Linked DNA regions of Homo sapiens. Each later gene encodes a partner of the first gene's protein in a complex. Each region holds a gene or a part of one and is shown on either strand. Other genes may lie near its edges.

Evidence for each region.
Region 2: CACNA1S (region 1) and STAC3 share a complex: the UniProt entries of both Homo sapiens proteins name them as parts of the calcium channel complex.

What each region holds. Positions count from the first base shown.
Region 1 is NC_000001.11:201,060,318-201,064,131, forward strand, and holds part of CACNA1S (voltage-dependent L-type calcium channel subunit alpha-1S), read right to left. Parts: intron 2,198-3,814; coding exon 2,145-2,197; intron 1,774-2,144; coding exon 1,627-1,773; intron 1,152-1,626; coding exon 950-1,151; intron 500-949; coding exon 341-499; intron 1-340. UniProt on the Homo sapiens protein: Pore-forming, alpha-1S subunit of the voltage-gated calcium channel that gives rise to L-type calcium currents in skeletal muscle.
Region 2 is NC_000012.12:57,242,749-57,245,677, forward strand, and holds the end of STAC3 (SH3 and cysteine-rich domain-containing protein 3), read right to left. Parts: intron 2,464-2,929; coding exon 2,397-2,463; intron 2,218-2,396; coding exon 2,168-2,217; intron 1,875-2,167; coding exon 1,789-1,874; intron 1,619-1,788; coding exon 1,567-1,618; intron 1,478-1,566; coding exon 1,340-1,477; intron 1,163-1,339; coding exon 1,064-1,162; 3' UTR 710-1,063; downstream 1-709. UniProt on the Homo sapiens protein: Required for normal excitation-contraction coupling in skeletal muscle and for normal muscle contraction in response to membrane depolarization. Required for normal Ca(2+) release from the sarcplasmic reticulum, which ultimately leads to muscle contraction.

The DNA.
Region 1 (3,814 bases):
GATTCCAGCCAACTCAACCATCCAGATTTGCAACAGCAGAAGAAAAACAGAGAAAGCACTTTCTACTTCCCACACTTTCTCCTCCTTCTGTGGTAGCTATCTCCTGTTTGCAGAATTACCGTACTATTTTTATGCTTGAATTACCTCCTTAATAAACCATAAGTGCCTGGTGACAAGGCCTGTGCGCAGTTCACTTCTGTATTCCATGTAGCACCTCAGCACACAGTGCACAAGAAATGTCTACTGGGGGGAATCCTGGCTATCCTGCCCTACTCATCCTGCCCTACCCAAGGCCCAGGTCCCAGTCTGATCAGACATTTTTCTCCTGGGGAGCCCTTACCTGCATGCCGAGGCAGATGGTGTTGAGCATGATGAGGGCAAACATCAGGTATTCAAAGTAGGAGGAGGTGACAATGTACCACACCTGGTACTGGTATGGGTTTTTGGGAATGTAGCACCTCAGTGGGCGGGCCTTCAGGGCATACTGTACACATTGGCGCTGTGACACATACAACAGGACAGGTCAGCACCAAGAGGCCCCTCCCTCCCTCTCCACACCCACATCCATGGGATTGACGGGCAAGTCAGGAGCAGCTGTGGCCAGGGGCTGTGGCTGAGGACTGTGAACTGTTTAGGGGAATAATCCTGTTGGGCTTTGGGTTCCCCTTGAGTTATCACAGCCCATTCCCATGGGTGCTATAGACTAGACTGTGGGTCTGAAGGGCTTCCTTTCTCTGGGCATCATGAGGTTCCACAAGAAGACCCACTCTACCAACTTGTATTGCTTCAGTTTGGAGATAGGGTAGGGTGCATGGAGGCTAGGGCTTGGCATCAAATGCAGGTTCTGGGGTCACCCTTAGGCCTCTCTTCCCTGGCTGAACCTAGGGCTTGGGCCAGCAGGAGGCCTGCTGGAGCTCTGCCCTCCACCTCTGGCAGGCAGCCCAGGCACCTGGTTCTTGTCCAGCTCACAGTTCTTGTACTCAGTCTCTCCCTGCTCCTGGAAGGTGACAATGACGAAGCCCACAAAGATGTTCATCATGAAGAAGGCAATGAGGATGATGTAGATGATGAAGAAGATGGCCATCTCCACACGGTTGTTGTAGATGGGACCCACGTCCTCCGCATTGGAGTCTATGGCCTTGTACAGCAGCCTGGGGGTGGGCAGAGAAGAGAGGACAGACTGGGTGGGGTGACAAGGCAGAGAGTCAGGCTGGGAAGGATGGGCTTTATCCCACTGGCTGTGGAGAGCCAAGAGAGCCTTCTCAACAATCAAGTTACGGGACAGGAGTTAGGTCGGCGCCAGGAAAGACCAGACCCAATCCTGGAATGGCCCTGCCTTTCAAGAGGTTGCCCCATCTATCCCTAATCAATCAGTATTAACAATCTGCCCTGTGGGCAGAGAGGCATACACCTATGGGGGACTGCGTGCATTTTGTCAGAGACCCCTGGTCAGGCCTACTTTGGAGTGACCAGTCAACATACCATCAAACCATCAGAGAGTTGGTGGGTTTGTTGGACGCCTGCCACAGGTAGCAGTAGCACCGTGGGGGCTGCAGAAGGGCAGGCTGGCTGCCTGGTCCTACCTGACCATGTCCATGAGGGACCTAGGCCCCAGCCATCACTCACTGAGGCCATCCCTCGAAGGTGGAGACCGTGAAGAGGGACATCATGGCTGAGAGCACATTGTCGAAGTGGAAGTCGCTGTGTACCCACTCGCGGTGACGCAGCTCTATCTGCATGGGGTCCCCGTCCTTGTACACGTAGTAGTAGCCCCTGTGGCAGGGAGGCCCAGTCACTCCACAGGGCATGGCTGGGCTGCCTTGCCCCACCCACATCCTCTGGGCCCTGGGTGGGGAGTGTGAAGGAGAAATGAAGTTCCAGATCTGGGACCCAAGGGGACACCGCTGGGCGAGTCCGAGGAAAGGGGCCTCTGTGAGTGTCCCTCCTAAGCCTAAAGGCTGAGCTTCCCCAGTTTCCAGCTTGAAGGGCCGTCATCCACCAACACACAGTCCCCTGCCCTGTGATCGTCCTGCCACACTCCCTGCCCCGTGACCGTAACCCTCCCACAGTGCTCCCTGCCCCGTGACTGTCCCACCATGCTCCCTGCCCCGTGACCGTCCCACTGTGCTCCCTGCCCCATGTACCTGCACTCCTCCTCTGTCATCTTGGACAAGTCGGTGCACCTGAAGAACTTCCCCTGCAGCCAGGAAGAGGGAGGGAGGGAGGGAGGCATGTTGTCATGGAAACAGGATAGAAAAGTGGGCTCTGGGAGTGAACAGTGGAAGGGGGGAGGGAAGGCAGGCATCTGAAAAAAGGAGCCCAAGCCCATCTCTTCCTCTCAGAGGCGTGAACTCGCCCTTGGGGCAGGGCCCCAGAGCAGCCTCCTTTCTTCACCATCGTTCATTCCCACAGCTCCCCCAGGGCTTCCCCACCCAGCCTAGATGCTGCCAAGACCGAGAAGGCAGTGCCTCAGAGGGGCATTTACTGAGTGCCCCCTGATGGGCTGAGGGGATGGACATGAGTGCAGCTTGGCCCCTGCCCCTCCCTCGGGGAGCTGAGCCTCTGAGCCCCTTACCTCCCGCACTGCTGCAGGAGGCCTTCTGTGGTCTCCCATTATGGAACAAGGAGGAGGGGCTGCCCACCTCCCACCTCCATCCTCCTGCCAGTGGGGCGGGAGCAGCAGAGTTGGAGCCCAGCTGGGCTCTGATGACTCAACTTGTCTCAGAGTCAAGCGGGGTCCCATGTCCCAGCCCAAGGCCCAGGTAGGGGGGCTCTGTGCTCCTCTGCACTGACTTTGGCCAGAGCAGTTAATCCTTTTTTTTTTTTTTCAAGGCTTTGCAGATTATTTATTATAGAATTTTTTTTAAATTATACTTTAAGTTTTAGGGTACATGTGCACATTGTGGCAGTTACTCCTTTTATCTGTGTCTCAGATTGGGTCCCTGAGCAACATGTTTGAAGGAAAGTAGTGGATGGCTAGGTCTTTTTTTTTTTTGTTTGCTCACTCTGTCGCTTAGGCAAGAGTACAGTGGTGTGATCTCGGCTCACTGCAATCTCCGCCTCCCCGGTTCAAGCAACTCTCTGGCCTCAGCCTCCTGAGTACCTAGGATTACAGGTATGTGCCATCATGCCCAGCTAATTTTTGTATTTTTAGTGAGAAGGGGTTTCACCATGTTGGTCAGGCTGGTTTTGAACTCCCAACCTCAAGTGATCCGCCCGCCTCGGCTTCCCAAATTGCCGGGATTACAGGCATGAGCCACCGCGTCCAGCAGGATGGCTAGGTCTTAAAGAGGCTAAATCAGGCTTGAGATCCACGGATTCTGGTGCAGTTCCTTCAAAGACCCAGATAGGGAAACTGCCTCGGCCAAGGACACAGCACTAGTTGAAGACACAGCTGGCCCTTGCCCCCCGCTGCCCCTGCCACACAGATCTGTGCTGTTCCTATCACATGCCCTTTTTATGGTTGCTGGAGCAGAAGGTGAAGGTGAGGCGGGTGGTACTGGGGGTAAGCAGAGAGTGGATAGAGCTGCCACTGGGCAGGGTCTGGGCACTTAACACCAAATGCCCAGTTTACTATGGAAAGCAAAGCTTGACTCTGCTATAATGTGGAATGCACGTGGTGTTTCCACAGAGTCAAAAGCGACATCAAATGCCAACTGGAACTGTTATGCTTCTAGAACCTCCTGGAAGGCAGGAGCTGGGGGTCTTTTAATGAGAGACAAAAGCATGGCGAGAGTTGGGTGTTGACAAGCAATTGCTCTTGCTTGTCTGGAAGGGACGTGGAAGCCAAAGGGAGGGCAGCGGCTCATTCATT
Region 2 (2,929 bases), on another chromosome or scaffold:
TCCCTTCCCCACACCTTCCTGCTCCTCGCCACCTGCCGCCCTGACCAGGGCCGGCGTATTTGCATATTTGCATATGCAAATAATAACATTTGCATACGGTGCTCCGCAGGGGTGTCTCCGCGAGAGCCGGTTAGCTGTCTGCCCTCCGTTCTCACTCGGTACCTGTCGGAAAGGGTTAGGGCAGGGGCCGCGCGGGTGGGGTTAGGCCCCCGGCCTAGCTAGCTCGGTTCTCGGAGGACTTGAGGAAGTGTTGCCATGGAGACGGCACGCACCCCACCCCCTCCCAGGCCCAGGGTCTCGGGCTTGGTGTCTCTGGTTGTCTCCCCTTACCCACCCTCCACCCCCTCCCCATCCCTCGCTCTCCAACCGAGATCTTGCATCGCCCCCTGGCGGCCTAGCTCGGCGCCAAGCCAGATTCCGAAATGCAAGGGGCTGCCTGCGGCTAAATCGCCAAGAGCAAGGGGGGACTTACCCTACTACAAGATCCTGCTCCCAACCGCTGGGGCGCGGGGGCGGCGACTCCAGCCCTGCGCTCCCCTTTCTTTACTGACTACAGAGGCCTCACCTGGCGGGCGCACTTCCCACCTCCCGCCAACCTCAGCCCAGATGGGTCTCAGGTTACCCGATGGTAACGAGGCGGGACAGCTAGGGAGGATTCTCCACCCCTCCGCAGGCCCTCTCCTCAACCCCAGTTAAATAACAACTTTTCTAAGTTTTGTCAAAAGTTTAATAAATTCGCAACATTCGACAGTTCGCCCTCCCTCGCCCCCGCCCCCCGCCCCAGTCCCTGGCTCCTCCTAGTAGATACGCGTTTTTTTCCAGCTCTTGCAAGCGGGGCCTGAAAGGTTTCGGGTCCGGGCTGCTCTGGGCAGCAGGTATCCGAGGCCCCAGGCTGGGGAAGGGGGCGAGAACCAGTCCCTTCCCGGAAGCCCCGTCGCGCTCAGGCGGGCCTTCCTACCCCTCCTCTCCCAGCAGTCCCGTTGCTTTCGCCCCCCTCCCCAAACTCCACTGGGCCCGCCCAGAATGGGGTGTGGGTGTCTCCCGCTTGCAGGCGCCCGCACGCCTAAATTTCCTCTAGAAAGTCGGTGGGAAACAGCCCCACCTTGCGGCCGGTGTAGACCTTGACGTAGCCGCCCGCTTCGTCTCCTTTCTGCACCACGATCTAGAAGATTAAAGGATCAGAAGTAGGAGAGGAATCAAAGGAAAAGGTAGGAGAGGACAGCAGGGGAGCCGGGGTTTACAGGGGCTCACCCTAGTCTTATTAATGGTTAAGCTCTCCAAGGAGTGTGGTGGGCTAGGGAGCATTCAGGCCTGGGATTGGGTTGGGGCAACAGCCTACCTGGTCCTTCTTGAGAGTGATCTGCCCTATCTCGCGGTTCCCCACGAAGGATCTCGTCACGCGGTGCACACGTTCTCCAGCCCGGACCCGAATGATGAAGTTTGGAGGGAAAAATCCGACCTTCTCCCCGATTTTCCCCTAGGGAAGATAGTAGGGAGAGTCCATCTCTCAATGTCGGGTTCTGGACTCAACCCACACTCCACCCTAGCCCTAGCCATTTCTCTCACCCGCCACCATTCTTCATTGGAGTCATCAATGACTGTGATCTTCTCTCCTGGCCTGGGAGGGGAAGGGAGGGGCCTCACTCACATAGCAGGTCCCCTGCTGTGCCCCGGGTCCAGCATCAATAGGCTCCAAGCCCTGAGTCCCCCCTTTTCCTTTCCCTTGGGGGAACCCAGCTCTTTCCTCTTCACTCCGCAGTACCAGCCCCCTGCCCCAAGGCCTCTCACGGGAAATCCAGATCGTCCTTCTCCAGGGCTTTGAACCGATAGAGAGCCACAAAGTAATGAGACTGCTGGAAGCCAGGCTGCTTGTGCTGGGGGTGCAAGGGAATGATGAGTCTTAGGGCTCCTCTACCCCACACTGAGGGGCAGGATTCCAAGGCAGGGACATTCACCACACACTCTACACTCCAACTCTCTTCTAGGTCCCTGAACTGAGAGAAGTGTTTTGGTCGTGGGTGGGTGTGCAAGTTGATGGAGAGTGTGGGTCAGAAGTGATGGGAAGCCTAGGAGTTAAAGAGTGAGCTTCTGCCAGGGCCATGAGTAGTGGTGTCAGAGCTGGGTTGGGGAGAGAACTGGGTTCCTTGCAGGGAGGAAGGATTCTTACCTTGTCATCAGGTGTCTTCTTCTCAGCCTTCTTATCCCCTTCAGGGTTTCCTGGGATAGGAAACACCAACAAATTGTCTGTCTCCTGGAGGGCAATTCTTATTCTCTTACCCTTTTGTGGAAGGGCCTCGTCTATCCAAAGCTGGCCTGCCCTTTGCTCCTCCACCCTCTGTTCCACAGCTGAGCCTCTGATCCTACTCCATCTCTGGATGGAGGTGGGTAACACTCACCATCCTGGGGTTTGCCTTCCTCTGGTCTGGCCGACTCTGGCTCCTCCTCCATCATGGCTGCTACAGGCTGGAGGGGGCACCAGAGTTAGGGAGACGCTGTCTTGGGAACACATGCCCTGGCTGTCTATAATCAGGTCAGAGAACTATAGAATAATGGGATCTCAGAGATCTCAGAGTTGGAAGAGGCCTTGGAGGAAATATCTAGTTCAGCCATCTGCCTAATGCAGGAACTTTTTTTTTTTTTTTGAGACGGGTCTCCCTCCGTCACCCAGGCTGGAGTGCAGTGGCGCAATCTTGGCTCAGTGCCAGCTCCGCCTCCAGGTTCACGCCATTCTCCTGCCACAGCCTCCTGAGTAGCTGGGACTACAGGCGCCTGCCACCACGCCCGGCTAATTTTTTGTATTTTTAGTAGAGACGGGGTTTCACCGTGTTAGCCAGGATGATCTCAATCTCCTGACCTCGTGATCCACCAGCCTCGGCCTCCCAAAGTGCTGGGATTACAGGCGTGACCCACTGTGCCCGGCCATGCAGGG